3 linked regions of the Homo sapiens genome follow. The protein of the gene in region 1 purifies or fractionates together with the protein of each later gene. This does not show direct contact. Each region holds a gene or a part of one and is shown in the gene's direction. Other genes may lie near its edges.

Region 1 (7,283 bases):
ACCTAGGGCTGGGAACACACCCCCTGGGCAACAATGAATCCTTATGCCCCTCCCAAACTTTTTGCCTCCTCTCCCCAGGGTGAGAAAATAGCCCTTAGAGGCCCCAAGGGACCAGAATAAACACACTTAACAAAGTAATCCATATCTTCCACCTGTTTGATGCCCCCCCAACCCACACAGATCTCCCCTTGAAAATTTTACTGCCCTAGCCAGATTTTCTTCGTCCTGTCATTTCTTTTAAAATTTATTGTTCTTGGCCAGGTGCAGTGGCTCACGCCTGTAATCCCAGCACTTTGGGAGGCCAAGGTGGGTGGATCACCTGAGGTCAGGAGTTCAAGACCAGCCTGACCAACATGGTGAAACCCTATCTCTACTAAAAATCCAAAATTAGCCGGGTGTGGTGGTGCATGCCTGTAGTCCCAACTACCCGGGGTGCTGAGGCAGAAGAATCGCTTGAACCCGGGAGGCAGAGGTTGCAGTGAGCAGAGATTGCGCCATTGCACGCCAGCCTGGGCAATAAGAGCAAAACTCCATCTCAAAAAAAAAAAAAAAATTATGGTTATTTAAGAAATACAGGCCGGGCGTGGTGGCTCACACTTGTAATCCCAGCACTTTGGGAAGCAGAGATGAGCGGATCACGAGGTCAGGAGATTGAGACCATCCTGGCTAACACGGTGAAACCCCGTCTCTACTAGAAATACAGAAAAATTAGCCAGGCGTGGTGGTGGGCGTCTGTAGTCCCAGCTACTCGGGAGGCTGAGGCAGGAGAATGGCGTGAACCCGGGAGACAGAGCTTGCAGTGAGCTGAGATCGCGCCACTGCACTCCAGCCTGGGTGACAAAGTGAGACTCCGTCTCAAAATAAAAAAAGAAAGAAATATAATGATCAGTAGCTGCACCACTAGAAAGATGGCAGAGCAAGAGCACAGAAAAATTCCTTTGGTTCCAGAAAATCTCCTGAAAAATAGGAAGGCTTATCAAGCCCTCAAAGCCACCCAGGCAAAGCAGGCATTTTTGGCAAAGGAGCAGAGGAAAGGAAAAGGGCTCAGGTTTAAGTGACTGGAATCATTCCTACATGATTCCTGGCAGGAGAAACGTGACAAGGTGCATCTCAAGACAACTAGAAGTGCAACCTCACGCCTTGGAATTGCCGGATAAATGTTCCTTGGCCTTTGTTGTACGCATCAAAAGGATTGATGGCGGGAGTTTACTGGTGCAGAGAACCATTGCAAGACTTTGCCTGAAGAAAATTTTTAGTGGTGTCTTTTTAAAAATGCTGCGTATAGTGGAACCTTATGTGACCTGAGGATTTCCAAATCTGAAGTCTGTCTGGGAATTCATTTTGAAACATGGACAAGCCAAGGTCAAGAATAAGACCATCGGCCAGACGCAGTGGCTCACGCCTGTAATCCCAGCACTTTGGGAGGCCAAAGATGGGTGGATCATGAGGTCAGGAGATCGAGACCATCCTGGCTAACACAGTGAAACCCCGTCTCTACTAAAAATACAAAAAATTAGTCCGGCGCGGTGGTGGGCGCCTGTAGTCCCAGCTACTTGGGCGGCTGAGGCAGGAGAATGGCGTGAACCTGGGAGGTGGAGCTTGCAGTGCGCCGAGATTGCACCACTGCGCTCTAGCCTGGGCGACAGAGCGAAACTCTGTCTCAAAAAAAAAAAAAAAAAAAGAATAAGACCATCCCTCTGACAGACAACACAGTGATTGAGGAGGACCTGGGGAAGTTTGGCGTCATTTGCTTGGAAGACCTCATTCATGAAATTGCCTTCCCAGGGAAGCATTTCCAGGAGATCTCATGGTTCTTGCGCCCTTTCCACCTTTCAGTGGCCCGTCATGCTACCAAAAATAGAGTGGGCTTCCTCAAGGAGATGGGCACACCTGGCTGTGGGGGTTAACGCATCAATCAGCTCATCTGCCAGCTGAACTAGACCCAGGTGCCAAACCGCAGTAAATTTTTATCAATGAAGTGGAAGCATGTGTTTTTGTTGTTTTGGGAATTTTTATCAAGTACTTTCAGAGAAGATTATTTCCTGCTTTATCTTCAAAAACTGGAAAGGGTCAAAGAAAAGACAGTAGCTTGCTGGGCACGATGCCTCACGCCAGTAATCCCAACACTTTGGGAGGCTGAGGCGGGCGTATCACCTGAGGTCAGGAGTTTGAGACCAGCCTGACCAACATGGAGAAACACTGTGTCTACTAAAAATACAAAAATTAGCTGGGAATGGTGGCGCACGCCTGTAATCCCAGCTACTCAGGAGGCTAAGGTAGGAGAATCACTCAAACCTGGGAGGCGGAGGTTGCGGTGAGCCAAGATCGCGCCATTACACTCCAGCCTGGGCAAAAAAAGTGAAAGTCCGTCTCAAAAAAAGAAAAAAAAGACAGTAGCTTATGTTCATGGCAAGCACCTCTCATCACAGTCCAGTTCCAAGGAAAAATTCCAGCGTTTTCTACATTGGGTGCCACGTCGCCTGAAATCAGCACATTCCATGGAGGAAGTAGTACTTCTCTGTTGCATCTATCCTAGGGTTTAATGTTGGTAAATGAGTCACTCTAGCATTTGCACAAGGCTCCTTAAGACTCCTGCAGCAGTCGACCAAGCCCAAGGACATAATTGAATCTGGAGAGTCCTGGGGCCTTGTTTTGAAAAAGACTTGAAATACACATAGGAAGAAAGACATAAAAATAAATGTTCACTTGTCTCTGCAAAAAAAAAAAAAAGAAAAGAAATATAAAAGCACCTGGCTTCAGCCACTTTTTCTGACTGCTCTCTCTTGTGAAGATGCCTGAGTACATGTAAAACAGGTACAATTTGTATTCTTTCCTCCTGTTAGTCTGTCTGCTGTCGATTCATTTTTTCTTATTTATTTTTGAGATAGGGTCTCCTAAGTTGAGCAGGCTGATCTCATTCTCTTGGACTCAAGGAATCCTCTTGCCCCGACCTCCCAGGCGCCAGGATTACAGGCGATTCTCAATCTGGGCCTAGATTCAACTAAAGAACCCACTAAGAGCTAAAAGGCGCGTTGGAGGTGACTCTGACTCCAGTACACAGGACATGTATGAAGTCACGTGGAGCACAGAGTAGGCCATCAGGAAGTGTGAGAAGGAGGTCTCAGGGGAGAGCTGGCGACTTTTACTGAGATAAAGACCCCAGGGGAAGCAGGTTGGGGTAAGAAAGGGATGAGCTGGGTTTGAGCCTAGGAGCCTTGGGCCATCCGCGCAGGGGCAGGACGTCAGGGAAGCCAAGAGCCTGGCTGCAGCTAGAGGGAGACAGGCGGTCGGGAGGCGTCCTGCACAGCACATGGGAGAAGCTCCTAGAAGAGAGGGCCCTCTGACTTTCTCAGCCTTACCCTATTCTCCCCGCTGCTTCCGCCATCTAGAAGCTCCCAGAATTTCAAGCTCCAAAAAGCCTACAATAGAGGAGGTTCTCCTGTATCCACTCCATGGCTTTTGTGAAAGGAAAATAAATCTTGGGACCCCCCCAAATCACTACGCTAAAGGAAAAAGTCAAGCTGGGAATTGCTTAGGGCCAACCTGCCTCCCAGTCTATTCAAAGTCACCCCTTTGCTGGCTGACACAGATGCATATCTGATTGCCTCCTTTGGAAACGCTAATCAGAATCTCAAAAGAATGCAACCGTTTGTGCCTCACCTTCTGTTTCTTGGAAGCCCCCTTCCTGCTTCACGTCTTCCTGCCTTTGCTTCAAGTTGCCCCGCCTTTCCAAACAGAACCAATGTACTTCTTACATACATTTATTGATGTCTCATGTCTCCATAAAATGTATAAAACTAAGCTATGCCCAGACCACCTTGGGCACATGTCGTGAGGACTTCCTGAGGCTGTCACGCGCGCGTCCTCAACCTTGGCAAGTAATTGAGATCTGTCTCGGAATTTCTGGGTTCACACTTTTTGCTCTCAACATTGGGAAGAGGCTGCTGTCGCCGTTTCTGAGGACAAAACGAGACAGTGATGGGCTGAAGTCCGATTATAAAAAGGTCCAGAGACGAAAACTAACTTCTGAGTTCACGAGGGCTGCCTTCCGCAGGGCGCTGCTTTGTTCCCGCAAACCCGGGCGGAAGCTCTGAGCTGCGCCGCCTCACCTGGCGGGGCCGGAGCATGCGCGGCTGGTTTTCAAGGCCGGCGCCTGTAGCCGCAACGGCCATTTTGGATTAGGGCAAGGAGAGAACTGGGCCTGGAGCGGGGGCGCGGGGAGGGGGGCGTCGTCGTGGGTACAATTGCGCAGGGGCAAAGGTCGAGAGGTCGCGCTGCCGCCGTTTTATTTGAAGACATCGTCCAGTTCTGACCATGGACTCGCAGCCATCGGCCCTTAGTTTCCATCCCCTCTAGTGGGCCTTCGGGGGCTCTACTGACGTCCCTCCTTCCCTTGGTACCGGGCCGGGGAAGTGTTCTCGGGCGCGGGAGGTTCCGCATGCCCAGGCCTGGCCAGGGGAGATGACCGATCCGTCGCTGGGGCTGACAGTCCCCATGGCGCCGCCTCTGGCCCCGCTCCCTCCCCGGGACCCAAACGGGGCGGGATCCGAGTGGAGAAAGCCCGGGGCCGTGAGCTTCGCCGACGTGGCCGTGTACTTCTCCCGGGAGGAGTGGGGCTGCCTGCGGCCCGCGCAGAGGGCCCTGTACCGGGACGTGATGCGGGAGACCTACGGCCACCTGGGCGCGCTCGGTGAGAGCCCCACCTGCTTGCCTGGGCCCTGCGCCTCCACAGGCCCTGCCGCGCCTCTGGGAGCTGCGTGTGGAGTTGGGGGCCCCGGGGCCGGGCAGGCGGCCTCCTCGCAGCGTGGGGTTTGCGTTCTTCTCCCCCAGGAGTCGGAGGCAGCAAGCCGGCGCTCATCTCCTGGGTGGAGGAGAAGGCCGAACTGTGGGATCCGGCTGCCCAGGATCCGGAGGTGGCGAAGTGTCCGACAGAAGCGGACCCAGGTGGAGTATCGGGTGCTCAGTCCCATGGGGACTTCTCTGTTCCTGTCCCATCCCGGTACCCTCTGCCACCTCCAGCTACCTGCTTAGCAGTTTCCTCTCTGAACTGCCTCCTCAACTGCGGCCAGGAGGCTGAGCCCCTGCCTGGCTCCGGGATGCAGCCTAGAAAGGGGCTGTGATGGGGGCTCTGGCCCTGCCATACCCGCCCCTGAGTCCTCACCTCTGCGTGGTCACTACACTCCGGGGACTTTTTTGTTTTGTTTTGTTTTAGAGACAGGGTCTCTGTTGCCCAGGCTGAGGTGCAGTGGCGCCATCATAGCTCACTGCAGTCTTGAACTCCCGGGCTCAAGCAATCGGCTCAACCAATCCTCCCGCGTGGGCCTCCAGAGTACCTAACACTGTAAAGGCACTCGCCACCACGCCTGGCTGGTTTTTTTTTTTTTTTTTTAATTAAAAAAATTTTAAAGAGGTAGAGGTCTTGGTGTGTTGCCCGAGCTGGTCTCGAACTCTAGCGATCCTCTATCTCGGCCTCCCAAAGCACTGGGATTACAGGCATGAGCCACTGCACCCGGCCTCTAGGTTCTGTTGACTCTACCTCCACATCATGACCCGCTCCAGTCGTTTTCCTGCACTATGGTTCCTATGCCCCCACATCCCGCCCTCCCATTTCCTTCCTTTAGTTCTTGCCTCAGCTTTTGCAGAGTATCCAGCCCCACTGAACTTGGCCATGCCCTCCTGGTTCTGCCTTTCTTGGTGCTGTTCCTTCTGCCTGGAATATCCCCAGGTGTCCGCTTCTTATTCCAGATCAGGCCCAGATGTTCACGTCATCTCTGCCCTTCCCCCGCGGTGACATTTCCCCAGCCCGGAGGCGGAATGGACTGTTCCCTCCCTCCAGGCTCTGTCTGGCTCTGCAGCCGAGGAACAGGTGTCACTCCTCCATCTCCTAGGAGCAGTCGGGGGTCCAGCAGGCCTGTCCCTGTCCACGCGGGCTGTGGGATTCAATGACCAGGATGAGCCAAGCCTGAACTCTCGCCTCCTTATCTTTCAGCAGATTCCAGAAACAAGGAAGAGGAAAGACAAAGGGAAGGGACGGGAGCCCTGGAGAAGCCCGACCCTGTGGCCGCCGGGTCTCCTGGGCTGAAGGCTCCCCAAGCCCCCTTTGCCGGGTTGGAGCAGCTGTCCAAGGCCCGGCGCCGGAGTCGCCCCCGCTTTTTTGCCCACCCCCCTGTCCCCCGAGCTGACCAGCGTCACGGCTGCTACGTGTGCGGGAAGAGCTTCGCCTGGCGCTCCACACTGGTGGAGCACATTTACAGCCACAGGGGCGAGAAGCCCTTCCACTGCGCAGACTGCGGCAAGGGCTTCGGCCACGCTTCCTCCCTGAGCAAACACCGGGCCATCCATCGTGGGGAGCGGCCCCACCGCTGTCCCGAGTGTGGTCGGGCCTTCATGCGCCGCACGGCGCTGACTTCTCACCTGCGCGTTCACACTGGCGAGAAGCCCTACCGCTGCCCGCAGTGTGGCCGCTGCTTCGGCCTGAAGACCGGCATGGCCAAGCACCAATGGGTCCATCGGCCCGGGGGCGAGGGGCGTAGGGGCCGGCGCCCTGGGGGGCTGTCTGTGACCCTGACTCCTGTCCGCGGGGACCTGGACCCGCCTGTGGGCTTCCAGCTGTATCCAGAGATATTCCAGGAATGTGGGTGACGGCCTAAAAAGTGACCATCTAGACATTGTGGGCGGCCCGAGATGGGCTCAGGGGCCCGAACCTCTGCAGCGGCCTGCAGGGAGGTCCCAGAATCCACCGCAAGAGCTGGCCTGGGGTGCGGACAGTCTGATCTTGGGCTCTCAGCAGCCTCTTCTGCCAGCACCTTGCTCCCCGCTGCCCTGGGCTCTCCAAGGCCCCCTTTGCTGAGGCAGGGCTGAGGTGAGAACCCCCCAGACCTCCATACAGGGAAGCAAAAGCTGTTTCTCCTCCCAGAGATGCTAAGAGGATTGAGGTAGAGAAGAACCTTGTTTTCTCTGTTGTCTTTTTCTTTTTACTTTTTTAATTTTTTGAGACGGAGTTTTGCTCTTGTTGCCCAGGCTGGAGTGCAATGGTGCGATCTCGACTCACTGCAACTTCCACCTCCTGGAGTCAAGCGATTCTCCTGCCTCAGCCACCCAAGTAGCTGGAATTACAGGCACCTGCCACTATGCCCGGCTAACTTTTTGTATTTTTAGTAGAGATGGGGTTTCACCATGTTGGCTAGGCTGGTCTCGAACTCCTGCCCTCAGGTGATCCACCCACCTCTGCCTCCCAAAGTGCTGGGATTACAGGCGTGAGCCACCTCACCTGGCCTTTTCTT
Region 2 (7,026 bases), on another chromosome or scaffold:
CATGGCCTTAATAGTCTCCATTATCTCTGTCTCCTACTGTTGTCTCTGTATTTCTCATCCTCCCATATGATCCCAAAGTTTCCCTCTTTTTGTCACATTTGTTCCAGCTGGAGAATCACTCTCATTGGACTGCTGAACTGAAAACATATATTATTGTTTCTTGAGGTGGTGGTTTTCTGTTTTTCCCCAGTGGATTCCATTGTCCTTCCTTCCCTGTCCTACCCTGTTTTTGGGCTGATGACTACAAAGTTCACTTGAATTACTTGGCTCTGACTTACAATGAGAGACACTGTTAAGAGATCCAAGAGCTAGGAGGAAAGGAAAGTCGCAGTGTGTATTTCCCTTTCTCCTTCCTTGCCTTGCCTTGCTTTTCACAACAGCATTCATCTATGGCCACCAACTCCTGTCGGGTAGTTCCTTTTTTAAGATTTAGTCTAAATCAGATTCTGGCAATGATTTAAGTTCCTCTTGCCCCTTCAGGCTAAGAGTGATAATGGATTTCTACTGTTGCTTGTCCTCAGATTCTTTTCATTCCTTGTTGGTTTAACTTTAATCACATCTCCATAAGTAGCCAATTTAAAAAACTCTCTTTAGTTAAACTCTTTCAGTGTACTATCTGCATGCTGCTAGGACCCTCACTGATAAATTTCCAAAGCCTATGTTGTCCTCAGAGGCACATTGAAGACCAATATCATCGCTCGTGTACACGTTTGCAGAAATCTCATCTTTCCTCAGCTCTTGAATTTTCCAGGTATTGAGTTTATTCTGTTTTTTAGTGGCAACAGAAAGCTTTTTTGACCTTTCTTTTCTTTTTGGCGGTGGAGCCTGGTTCTCATTTTCTTCTTTTGCCCTTTTCATTTCAGCAGTGGAGCCCAGCTCTCCACTTCTATCAAAGTTTCCAGACTTTCTCAATTCAGTGTCCTCAGTGTCCTTGTAATGTTTCTGCAGTGTGTCCCTAGACCTAAAGAAATACCCAACAGTTCCATTTATTAAGAAGTGCTTACTAGTTAGTATTTTAAGTCTTAAAACAGGAGTTTTTGAAAAATACAAATACTGAGAGAAAACGTAATATTTTTATTCCATTAGTACATGATTACAATTAACTAATGGGACATGTCTGCCTGTTGTACACTATATAACTTCCCACATCTTGGGATCATAAGGATAACTGCACTCTCATGTCTTCTTCCACAGTGATTCTTCATAGGAAGTTGCTTTTTATTGTTGAAAACCCACCTTAGCAAAGATGGGTTTATGACATCACCAGAAGGAATATGGAATATTCTAATGTTGAAACTATGAACTACCTTTCGCTAGTAGTTCTCACAGTGTCCCATAGATGTCGCTGTGTTCCCTATGAAAAGTGAAAATACTCTCTGGCACCCCAGGGCTCCTCAGTGAACACTTCGAGAACCTCAGCATTCTTTGTGCTAATTCTTTTATGATAGATGTGTACTGTTCTTTTTTCAATTGCAATACATGTTTTAATTTGTTGCTTTCTACCACACATAAGGCTGATGCAGTGTCTCTTACCTTTTTTGTTTACTTTCAGATCTTAGACTTCAGATAAGACATGCAGATTCTTTAAGTCTACCAAGCAGTTTTCTCTTTGATTCTAGATTCAATTCATAATAAGACAAACTGAAACACAAGTTGGGACAGTACCTATCTCAACTTGTACTGCTCAGCTTTTTTTGGTGGTAGTTTTACTCCGTCTAGAATATCGTTGCTCCTAGAGTTTGAAATTATCTAACAGCATGCCCTTGCCTTGTGTAACTGACCTGCTTCATCTAGAAAATTGCCGGCGTACCAGCAATCACACTTGCATTTTAAATTCTAAACATTGGGCCAGGCACAGTGGCTCACGACTGTAATCTCAGCACTTTGGGGGAGCCAAGACGGGTGGATCACCTGAGGTCAGGAGTTCGAGACCAGCCTAGCCAACATGGCAAAACCCCATCTCTATTAAAAATACAAAAATTAGCCATGTGTGGTGGTGGGTGCCTGTAATCTCAGCTACTCAGGAGGCTGAGGCAGGAGAATCACTTGAACCTGGGAGGCAGAGGTTGCAGTGAGCTGAGATTGCACCATTGCACTCCAGCCTGGGCAATAAGAGTGAAACCCCATCTCAAAAAACAAAAAATAATAAAAAATAAATGGTAAACATTAGTGACATCTTCTTATGCAGAAGCTTCAGTCTATCTGTATGGTACCTTGTTTTTCAGATACCATGTGACTGTTTTACTTATTCAAACCATGCTGGATGTTAGGATTTAAAGTGGGATTGAACACAAGTGGTGGAGTACTAACATAAAATATCTCTAGATCACAGCCCCACCCTCCCACTTATGTTGTGAAGAAAGTAACGCTCACTGGGAACAGTGCAAAGTAACAAAAAATGAAGAGCTTTATATGTAAAATGTTAGAAACAGATAATCGGTGCCGTGAAGAAAAGTCAGCACGGAGACAAAGGATCTCTCAGCAAGGCAATCTTTACTTTCTGCAGAAAGCGTGCCCCTCGCAAATGGAACAATCGCGAGAGCACACCTGAACAAAGGAAAAGCAGACATATATATCCCTTATGCATTTGGGTTGTCCTTACTGCTGTGTCCTGCATCCATTGGCTGGAGCTGGACCTCACAGTCTTAAACTGATTACTGATTTGCTAATAACCTAAAACTTTCCTAAATAGGTAAATGCAAAGGAGAACAAAGAGGAAGAGGAAGTTGCTTATGAAAGGTTTAAGGAAGCAACAACATTTCCAAATAAGGAAGGGGCATAAGCTGTGAGCTAAGACTTGCCTGGGCCTGTCCAGACATGCTTGAGTAAGCCAAAGCAACTAACTGGGCTAAAGCGTAAGAACTGATAGTTGATAGGAGGCTTTAGAGTAAGGAGCTATTATTCCTAGTGTCTTTTATTTTATTTTTAAATCAAGATGAGCTTTGAAGAGGAACTTTTCTACTTTCTACATAAAACTTTAATGTAGAGTATAGAATTCTAGGAAAGCTAGCTTAAGGTCTGTGAGGTGACTTATCCCAAATCTCAGATCTGTAACATACTTTATAAATTTTAATTTTTTTTTTTTTTTGAGACAGGGTCTCGCTCTGTTGCCCAGGCTGGAGTGTAGTGGCATGATCTTGGCTCACTGCAACCTCCACCTCCTGGGTTTAAGTGATTCTCATGCCTTAGCCTCCCAAGTAGCTGGGACCACAGGTGCGTGCACCACGCCCGGCTAACTTTTGTATTTTTAGTAGAAATGGGGTTTCACCATGTTGGCCGTTGCTAGTCTCGAACTCCTGACCTCAAGTGATTCACCCACGTCAACGTCCCAAAGTGCTGGGATTACAGGCATGAGCCACCTTGCCCAGCCTATAATGTACTTTAGTTTGAAGCATGGAATGAAGAGACAGAGGAAAGAGAAATTAGTCAATATGTTAGTTTTACCAGACTGGCTGGAATAAATAGCAAATGAGGTGATTGGACCTTCTCTTATTCACAATAAGACAAAATCTTACCATTTTAGCCAGTGTAAAAGTGTAATAAGAACTTTTAACAAGTATTAATTCTGTCTCTAGCGTATGTGCATCTTGCATCTTCCTGATGCATAACAAGTCTTCCTTGTAACAGTGGAAGAAAGCAGGAGAAAGTAGACCTCTCTTCCTCCAATCTAAAAAAATGGAGTCTAAATTACCAATCCTGACATGATTCTTCCTCCAGTTTATTTCACAAAATAACTGCTTCCAAAATACTTAACACTTTTAACTTCAATAGAATATTATAGCCTTAGTACCCCATCCCTTCTATATGCCATTTGCTAGTCTTAATTATATTCTCCTCATACTTCTTTCATGACAGTTCTCTCCCATATTAATTATGAGTCAGAGAGAAGAAATGAGGTGGAAGGCCCTGAGATCACATTCTCACTGCCATAGACGTATTTTTCTAATTCTTTTCCTGTTTGACTGTGAAACCCTCTGGCACATTGTATTTTGATTCTTTTCATGTTGCATTTTTTATAAGTGTTTTTCGTGTTCATTAACATCAACTAGATATATAATTTAAGGTCAATAGATTTTTTTTTACTGTTTATACCAAAACGTTACATAATGAAATGCATAAGTTTATAAATTGAAATTTGTTATATAAAATAAGTAATTTATTGCTTTGTAGAGCCTTAAAAGGAGAAACATTTATCTCTTTTTGTGGATGGTGTACAGAAGCCTGAAAAACAAAATAATAGAAAAGTCCAGTACTTTATGATTAAAATGTATATACGTTAAAACATATAGGTAGAGGTCAGTATATGGTTTGGCCACAGCTTAGGAACTATGTTCTACAGGTGCATTTAAACACTGGTTATTAAAACCTTAAATATATTTCGCCACATAAGCATTATTTTCAGTGTCTACTGTGTATTCTCTCATACGGCTTTGGTATAATTAACTTGTCCCTGGTTTTTGAACATTCAAATTCTTGCTAATTTGCTTTTTAAATTATGTTTTATTGTTATAATAAATGAATATCTTTCTGTATAAAGCTTGGTCTGAATTTCCCCTTTCTTCCTTTCGTACGCAGAATGGGTCTTGCTACCCAGTGGTATTCTTTTGAAAATTAAATGACCTAATATTCTTAAAGTGCTTATTAGCACAATATGTGGCACATTGTGAGTACAGAATAAATGCTATTTGCAGAACTTTTTCTGGCTTAGCAATGAGACAAATAAATACAAAGGTTTCAAATGAGTTATTTGAAGCAAGCATTGGGGTAGTAACATAGCACATGATGGCAAATAGAGGAGGGAAATCTGAAAGATTGAAGCTCTAAGAGAAGGAGTTTCGGTGGTTATTCATCTGTATTGGTTGTTCCCAGTTGTGTATTCTTTAAGTATACTTTAGGAATACCTTAGCTGGAAAATGTCACAATGTAAGTTTTGTTTCTTTGAATTAAAATGTGTAAGTTTGATAAAGTACTATACAGTTGAGAAATGTTACAAACCTCTTTAAAACAGTGTGACCTTTGTGTGTGTAATTTTTGTTTATTGTATTTGTATTTCATATTTTTTGTGATATTTTATTCAAGTGTGTGTCCAATGATGTCTTTTCTGTTTTCTTTATTATTTTTTTTAATTATCCTAGTCACGTGAACTGGAAATTTCAGTTTATTGGCGTGATTGGCGGTCTCTGTGTGCTGTAAAATTTCTGAGGTTAGAAGATTTTTTAGACAACCAACGGCATGGCATGTGTCTCTATTTGGAACCACAGGGTACTTTATTTGCAGAGGTAATAAATGTATTTTATTAAATGTGCATAACTACAATTGAAATTACATATGTAGGCAGCATAATATAGAAGTAGAAAGAGTGTTAGGCTGAAAGACAGATGACTTGAGTTCTTGGCTGAGCTATGCCACTGAATAGGTATGTGACTTTGAGACAAATCAATTATTCTTCCTATGTCTGTTTTCTCATGTAGAAAATGAGGGGCTGGACTAAACTGTAACTAAGATTCTCTTAAGCTTTAAAATTTTATAAATTTAGTAGATTTCATGAACCATGCTATTTTCATGTCAACTTGAATTTTCTTCACTGCAGGTTACCTTTTTTAATCCAGTTATTGAAAGAAGACCAAAACTTCAAAGACAAAAGAAAATTTTTTCAAAGCAACAAGGTAATTACTAACAATCAAATGCATAGCATTTTGATATTTTCTTAAACAATCTAATTACCATTTAAAAAGTAATAGCCATCTGTGTGGGTTTTTTTGTTGTTGTTTATTCATTTATTTCTAACTTCTTATTAAGGAATATTTTAAATGTATCCATAAGTGGAGAGACTAGTGAAATGTACAGTCACCCGGCTTCAACAATAATCAACTCATGGCCAATTTTATTTTATCCATATGCCATCCTCTCACTACTTTCTCAAATTTGAAGCAAACCCAGACATCATATTGATGTATTCATAATTATTATAATTTATATCTAAAAGATAAGATTTATTTTTAAAACCTTACTACTAGACTTAAAGAGAAAAAAACAATTTCTTACCTATTTATTTTTAAAACTACGTATGCTATTTTGCATTAGCCTTTACTAGCAAATAGTAAAAAACTAGTTTTTTTAAGTGACAAATTTTGTTTGTTCTTCGTAGATTATAAACTAATGGATAAGAATTTTTAAATTATGACTTTTGGTTATACATAAAGAAATTACTTGCTGTTTTTGTTTTTTTCAACATCTACAGGCAAAACATTTCTCAGAGCTCCTCAAATGAATATTAATATTGCCACTTGGGGAAGGCTAGTAAGAAGAGCTATTCCTACAGTAAATCATTCTGGCACCTTCAGCCCTCAAGCTCCTGTGCCTACTACAGTGCCAGTGGTTGATGTACGCATCCCTCAACTAGCACCTCCAGCTAGGTATGTGTCTGAGATTTTAAGCATCTCTTATACAAAGTTATTGGGACATTCTTACGTACTGATTATAGCAGGTGTACTGAGTCTTGCTTTTTTCCCAAGTAGTATTTTGAAAGTAGTGTTCTGTTTACTTAAAAAGTAAATTGTTTGCTTTAATTTTAAAGCTGTTTAAAATACAGACTTTCTATTACTGTTTTGGTGAGTTACTTTATCTTCTATAAGTGATTCTACAGTAACCAAATTGGACTTTGATCTTGAGCCTGAACCTCCTCCAGCCCCACCACGAGCTTCTTCTCTTGGAGAAATAGATGAATCTTCTGAATTAAGAGTTTTGGATATACCAGGACAGGCAAGCCATTTTAAACCTTGCATAATTCCTCTTCACTGAATGAATTAGCAATAAAAGCATCATAGTGAATAAGGCGTGTCTTTCCATTTAAAATTGCCACTGAACTGTGAATTTATGGTTTTTTGTTTGTTTTTTGTTTTTGTTTTTGTTTTTTGAGACAGAGTTTCACTCTTGTTACCCAGGCTGGAGTGCAATGGCATGATCTCGGCTCACTGCAACCTCCGCCTCCCGGATTCAAGCGATTCTCCTGCAAGCCATTCTCCT
Region 3 (7,026 bases), on another chromosome or scaffold:
TTGGTGCTGGGAGCATACTAACCAGAGTGGGAGGAGGAGAGAGGGTAGAGAGGACATGAGGTGCATTGGGTTGGGTGAACCTGGCACACTTTTCTTTTGTCTGCCTTGCTCTGAAAGAATAGATGGCTACACTTCCTGCTTGGGGTAATTAATGAGCACCAGCTAGCACCAGCCAGTGAGATGATAAGTAGTGGGAGCCCAGTTACCAAGCAGGGGGAAAGCAGAAGAGAGAAAGAAGATGTAAACAGTGGTAAGTCATGGGCTCCACAGGCTGGGTAAGCTCTCAGGAGCTCATGCTGTTAGGAGAAAGACAGGGATCTTAAAGGGAGCAGGAGGGGAAGGAGAGAGGCTAGGCTGGCATGGGTCTCCGGCCTAGAGATTGGCTGTGGGGAGAATAGAGAGGGAGTTCAGGATGTCTGCTGGGATACACATTCTTCTTCCTTTAAATGGGGTCCCAGGAAGATTTCCTTACGAAACAACACTACATAGAAGCAAGACCAGCCACCTCTCAAAAGGGATAAGTTTTCGAACAAGGGAAAGCTCCCCAAACCCACCTAAGGGACCAAGACATACCATGAGTAGATATGCCTCACAAATACCCTATCTGTGACCCTCAGCAGCCTCCCCAACCACTACAAAAGTCCACACCTTGCTGAGCAGAGGGTTTGATATCTCTTAGATTAAAAGATGTGGTCTGCCTATTTGGCTGTCCAGTCTTCCCTCCCACCCAAGGACTTCTTAACCCGGAAGCAGTTCCTCTGGAGACGAAATAAACAACATGTCTGCAGAGGCACTGTGACTCTGGACTTGTTTCCAAATAAAAAAATCTGTTTCACAGTAATTGTGCTTCTGAGATAAAGACTATATGCTGTAATTTACGTCATCAGTTTTACCGCTTGATTTAGTTAGTATATGCTATTTGCCAACTGGCATGGAAGTGTTTCAGTATTTTAACAACTATATAGCAGGATTAGTGCATACCTGCCGAATATCAAATATCAAACCATACTTGTGTTAACCTAAATAGTCTATTTTTGACTTTACTCTGATATGTTTATGTTTTAAAGCTCAAGTTTTTATTTTCAAAGAGCTTTGTAGGAATTTTGAACCATATTCTGTTTACAGAGAACACAGGTATTACTGAAAGCTTGTGTTTTAATAATAGCAGATTTTATTTTACTTGATCCCTCATTACTTCATAATGAATGTCTATAGGAGAAAGACTTTTTTTTTTAAATTTTTTTAGTATTTATTGATCATTCTTGGGTGTTTCTCGGAGAGGGGGATTTGGCAGGGTCATAGGACAATAGTGGAGGGAAGGTCAGCAGATAAACATGTGAACAAGGGTCTCTGGTTTTCCTAGGAAGAGGACCCTGCCGCCTTCCGCAGTGTTTGTGTCCCTGGGTACTTGAGATTAGGGAGTGGTGATGACTCTTAACGAGCATGCTGCCTTCAAGCATCTGTTTAACAAAGCACATCTTGCACCGCCCTTAATCCATTTAACCCTGAGTGGACACAGCACATGTTTCAGAGAGCACAGGGTTGGGGGTAAGGTTATAGATTAACAGCATCCCAAGGCAGAAGAATTTTTCTTAGTACAGAACAAAATGGAGTCTCCTATGTCTACTTCTTTCTACACAGACACAGTAACAATCTGATCTCTCTTTCTTTTCTCCACATTTCCCCCTTTTCTATTCGACAAAACCGCCATCATCATCGTGGCCCGTTCTCAATGAGCTGTTGGGTACACCTCCCAGACGGGGTGGCGGCTGGGCAGAGGGGCTCATCACTTCCCAGACGGGGCGGCCGGGCAGAGGTGCCCCTCACCTCCCGGACGGGGCGGCTGGCCGGGCGGGAGGAGAAAGACTCTTACGAGAGTTAGCTCCTTGTCAACCAAATCTGTGCCTAAAGATAACATCATACATAGTTCTTTGAACCCAGAGGATCTAGTTTTTGAATCATCTGGAATAGGCATTCTAGAATTATCTATGTTCTGAAATGTTACCAGCATTTCAAGCTACTACAGATTTCTGTATTTAATCAGAGGATTCACTGATCCTGAATATTCTAAAAAGATTGTTTTAATTCTTATGAAAGGTCATGTTGTTATCTAGATCAACACCCTTCAGGGGAAACTTAGCATTTTGCAGCCACTGATCCTTGAGACCTTGGATGCTTTGGTGGACCCCAAACATTCTTCTGTAGACAGAAGCAAACTGCACATTTTACTACAGAATGGCAAAAGGTAAATATGGATGATGTATCACATTGGGAGTTGGAGACAAATATCTTAAAATCAATTATTAACATTTTGTTTCATAACTTTTTTTAAAGTATGAAAGTAGCCTAGGTGGGAAGTTGAGCTAAAAGGGGCACACAATCTACTGTTTGTTGAAAAGATACTTTGCATGAAATGTCATGTAAGGCTCTTTTCCGTATGTGATCTCATCTCATCACCCATTCAATAGTTGATATTGTCTTCATTTTGAAGATGAGAAAATTGAGGTTTGAGTAACTTGCCTAAATTTATATGGCTAGTAAATGGCAGATCTAAATCCAAATTCAAAGTCCATGTTGTTCTTTTTCTTTAAAATCATAATGCATTCCAGAATTTAATAACAATATTATATATGTATCATAAATAGAATAAACATGCTCTCAGGAGTTATACTCCCGAAATCCCTTCAAGAATTAACATTTAAAATTCCTGAATCAGTAGTTTCTTATCCAAAAATGTTGGAGTGTTTTTATCAGTTAAGAGTAACTAGTCTGTTCTATATTATCACTGCCATGTTGATTAATAAAATTCCCAAACCAAAAATCTTAAATTCACAAGCGATTTATGTTTCTGAGATAAGTAATGTATGATGAAATTTATATCACTGATAATTTTACCAATTAATTTAGATCTGGTTTGGGTTTTTTGTGGGTGTTTTTGAGACAGGGTTTCACTCCGTTGCCCAGGCTGGAGTGCAGTGGTGCAGTCTCAGCTCACTGCAGCCTTGGTTTGGGTTTTTTGTGGGTGTTTTTGAGACGGGGTTTCACTCCGTTGCCCAGGCTGGAGTGCAGTGGTGCAGTCTCAGCTCACTGCAGCCTTAACCTTCAGCAATCCTCCCACCTCCACCACCCAAGTAGCTGGGACTGCAGGCACATGCCACCATGCCCAGCTAATTTTCTAAATTTTTTTGTAGAGACAAGATCTCACTGTTGTCCAGGAGGGTCTCAAACTCCTGAGCTCAAGCAATCCTCCTGCCTTGGCCTCCTAAAGTGCTAGGATTACAGGCGTGACACCATGCCTGGCCAAATTGATTCTTAATTTGCCTGGTAAATACTCAACTTTTTTTTTTTTTTTAAATAAGTCATTGTTTAGCATGAATGTATAAGATAATATATTTGATAAGATACTCTAAAAACACTATTATGAAATGTTCTTATAAGTTTATTCTATTGATCATTTTTGTGTATCTATTTCTTATAGTCTATCAGAGTTAGAAACAGATATTAAAATTTTCAAAGAGTCAATTTTGGAGATCTTGGATGAGGAAGAGTTGCTAGAAGAGCTCTGTGTATCAAAATGGAGTGACCCACAAGTCTTGTAAGTATATAATTATACTTTGTTATTTATTTCCTTAGAGTAAATCTTTTGCCTTTTCCACTTCAAGGTGATTTTTCATACAGAATGTAACATTTTTCTGGACTACAGAATATAGAGATTTTTCATCCCCAGTTTCCCTTTTTTCCTGTGCAGTATCGTATCTAATTCAATGTAATTCTATGAGTATGCATACTGCATACCCAACACTGCTGACATGTGGTGAATATAAACACACAGTTACCTTTATATTCAAGGGACTGACCACCAGATTGGCATATACATCTACCAAAATAACTTACCTAGGAAGCAGAGTGGGAGAGAAATTTACATGGGGGAGGGAAAAGATGGGGTAAATACACGAGTAACACATTAACATGGATTATGTAAGTTCAGTCTAATGAAAATGTTAATCTTATAAACCTTTTATCTTTTATGAATTTAGAAATTGTTTATGCTTCTTGTGCACACTCCAGCTAAATGTTTACTTTTAAATACCCAAATATTTTGTTATTGTCTTTCTAGAGCAGTATCAGAAATTAATACACCTTTGTAATGAGTTTAGTTTCCACAGTCTGTACAGATTTTCTTACAGCACTTTGAAAAATTGGTTATTTATATCCTGATAAGGAAATAATAAGATAAAGGGGGCTATATAACATTTGGTAGATAGCCGATAGGTATGGTAGCAGAAACTGTTTGCTTTGCTTAGGCCAATCTGTCAATCTGTCTCTAATATGCTTTATGATACAGGTACCTCTTCAGAGTACTTCATTCCCCCTTACCCTTCTTGGTAGGGTAGGGGAGCAAAGTTATTACTGATATCATTCAAAAACATTTTCTTTATATGAAATCACATTATGTACACACCTCAAAAGGAAATGGTCTTGACATTTTTAGTTGTGGATTTTGTTTTACCTGATAGTGGTATTGGCTTTGCACTAATTCATCTGCATTCACATATCTGGATTTTCCTGTAACTGGCAGCATGTATCTGCATAAAAATCTCTTGGATTGGGGCCATGTAATACAGTGACACCAACTGGTCTACATAAGGATGGAACCTCTGTCCTCAACTCATCTGTAAAGTGTTTTGGATCAGTTGACATAGGTACTCACAGATTGGCCACAACAATAGAAAAGACAAAGGCAGCCAGGCGCTGTGGCTCATGCCTGTAATCCCAGCACTTTGGGAAGCCGAGGCAGGCAGATCACAAGGTCAGGAGTTCGAGACCAGCCTGTCCAATATGGTGAAACCCCATCTCTACTAAAAATACAAAAATTAGCTGGGCGTGGTGGCGGGCACCTGTAGTCCCAGCTACTGGGGAGGCTGAAGCAGGAGAACAGCTTGAACCTGGGAGGCAGAGGTTGCAGTGAGCCGAGATCGCGCCACTACACTCCAGCCTGGGAGCAGAGTGAAACTCCATCTCAAAAAAAAAAAAAGACAAGACAAGACAAAGGCTAGCTTTTCCACTGGTAGCTGAATGCTATATACTAATTTAGGAAGTTTTTGTCACTAAGTATATGATACACATGTTGGGAGTATGTTAATTATTTTCTCTTTTAATTGAAGTGAAAAGAGCAGTGCTGGGATTGACCATGCAGAAGAGATGGAGTTGCTGTTGGAAAACTACTACCGATTGGCTGACGATCTCTCCAATGCAGCTCGTGAGCTTAGGGTGCTGATTGATGATTCACAAAGTATTATTTTCATTAATCTGGACAGGTAAGAAAGCATTATATAAAACTAAGTTTTTTTAATAAAATAATTATAAGAAAGTTTTTAAGGAAATATTTTGTGAGGAATTACGCCATCATTATCATCTATACTACATTATTATTATTTTTTTTGTTGTGTAGGTTTCATCCATGTGGTCTGTATAGATTTGATGAATGTGCTGTATATAGTTAGTGGGCCCTTCTAATCTGAATAGGTGTTCTCCTCTCCAGCCACCGAAACGTGATGATGAGGTTGAATCTACAGCTGACCATGGGAACCTTCTCTCTTTCGCTCTTTGGACTAATGGGAGTTGCTTTTGGAATGAATTTGGAATCTTCCCTTGAAGAGGTGAGAATGTATTATTATTTCTAAAACTTGGGGGTTTTGGCCGGGCATGGTGGCTCATGTCAGTAATCCTAGCACTTTAGGAGGCTGAGGCAGGTGGATCACCTGAGGTCAGGAGTTTGAGACCAACCTGGCCAACATGGCGAAACCCTGTCTCTACTAAAAATACAAAAATTAGACAGGCACGGTGGCAGGCACCTGTAATCCCAGCTACTTGGGAGGCTGAGGCAGGAGAATCACTTGAACCCGGGAGGCGGAGGTTGCAGTGAGCTGAGATCGCGCCGTTGCACTCCAGCCTGGGAGACAGAGTGAGACTCTGTCTCCAAAAAAAAAGATTGGGTTTTGAAGATCGATATTTTTAATGGATTTAAAAAATAAAGGCTGGGCACCTTGGCTCAACGCCTGTAATCCCAGCACTTTGGGAGGCTGAGGCAGGTAGATCACGAGGTCAGGAGATCGAGGCCATCCTGGCTAACCCGGTGAAACCCTGTCTCTACTAAAAATACAAAAAATTAGCCGGGCGTGGTGGCAGACGCCTGTAGTCCCAGCTACTCCGGAGGCTGAGGCAGGAGAATGGCATGAACCTGGGAGGCGGAGCTTGCAGTGAGCCAGGATCACACCACTGCACTCCAGCCTGGGCGACAGGACAGAGTGAGACTCTGTCTCAAAAAATAAATAAATAAAAAGTCTAACCTGTAAACTACCATGGTGAAATAAAATATATAATGTAACTCACAATTCAGGCAGTACTGTTGGACCATGTTATAACCTAGATAAATACAGCCTAGGTTACTTTGTTTCCCAAAACATATAATTACAGATGGGAAAGGTGTGATAAAACAGTGTCTCTGTGAAGCAGTGTTAATGAAGAGTTTTTATTTTTTAATTCTTACATGTCTGGCAACGTACCAGGCGGTTTGCATACTTTATTTGGCTCAATCATTGCAACTCTGAAAATAGATATATTATCCCTACTTTGTAGATGAGAAGACTGAGGCTCAGAACATTTAACTTGCCCACAGGCATAGAGCTGGAAAAATAACAGAATTAGGACATGACCCCAAAGACTTGCACTTTCTACTGCTCTGTTGCCTTTCTGTATTAAGATAATACTTAACTCCCAGAGTTTTTCATTTCACTGTGGTTTTGTACAGTCATCCCTCAGTATCCAAGAAGAATTGGTTACAGGATCCCCACAGATACCAAAGTCTGTGGGTATTCAAGTCTCTGATATAAAATGACCCAGTACAGTCAACCTTGCATATCTGCAGATACAGAACCCACTGACTGTGTTTTCACAGAATAGCTTATTGTAAGTTTTCTAGAACTGAACCTGGATGTGCATCTGGCACAGTGTGATGCTGGATTC

The links. The genes of interacting proteins can lie anywhere in the genome.
Region 2: the proteins of ZNF747 (region 1) and PKN2 purify together in Homo sapiens (co-immunoprecipitation; 2 studies listed by BioGRID and IntAct, with this or other methods). This does not show direct contact.
Region 3: the proteins of ZNF747 (region 1) and MRS2 purify together in Homo sapiens (affinity purification with mass spectrometry; 2 studies listed by BioGRID and IntAct, with this or other methods). This does not show direct contact.

Annotation. Positions count from the first base shown.
Region 1 is NC_000016.10:30,531,858-30,539,140, reverse strand, and holds the start of ZNF747 (zinc finger protein 747), read left to right. Parts: upstream 1-4,282; 5' UTR 4,283-4,461; coding exon 4,462-4,690; coding exon of another isoform or gene 4,691-4,830; coding exon 4,831-4,944; intron 4,945-5,989; coding exon 5,990-6,642; 3' UTR 6,643-7,283.
Region 2 is NC_000001.11:88,799,256-88,806,281, forward strand, and holds part of PKN2 (serine/threonine-protein kinase N2), read left to right. Parts: exon of another isoform or gene 1-4,536; intron 4,537-5,135; coding exon 5,136-5,279; intron 5,280-5,590; coding exon 5,591-5,666; intron 5,667-6,241; coding exon 6,242-6,416; intron 6,417-6,635; coding exon 6,636-6,762; intron 6,763-7,026. UniProt on the Homo sapiens protein: PKC-related serine/threonine-protein kinase and Rho/Rac effector protein that participates in specific signal transduction responses in the cell.
Region 3 is NC_000006.12:24,412,919-24,419,944, forward strand, and holds part of MRS2 (magnesium transporter MRS2 homolog, mitochondrial isoform b precursor), read left to right. Parts: intron 1-2,097; exon of another isoform or gene 2,098-2,114; coding exon 2,115-2,245; intron 2,246-3,478; coding exon 3,479-3,595; intron 3,596-5,165; coding exon 5,166-5,318; intron 5,319-5,542; coding exon 5,543-5,660; intron 5,661-7,026. UniProt on the Homo sapiens protein: Magnesium transporter that mediates the influx of magnesium into the mitochondrial matrix and regulates magnesium metabolism. Also permeable to calcium, sodium and potassium ions.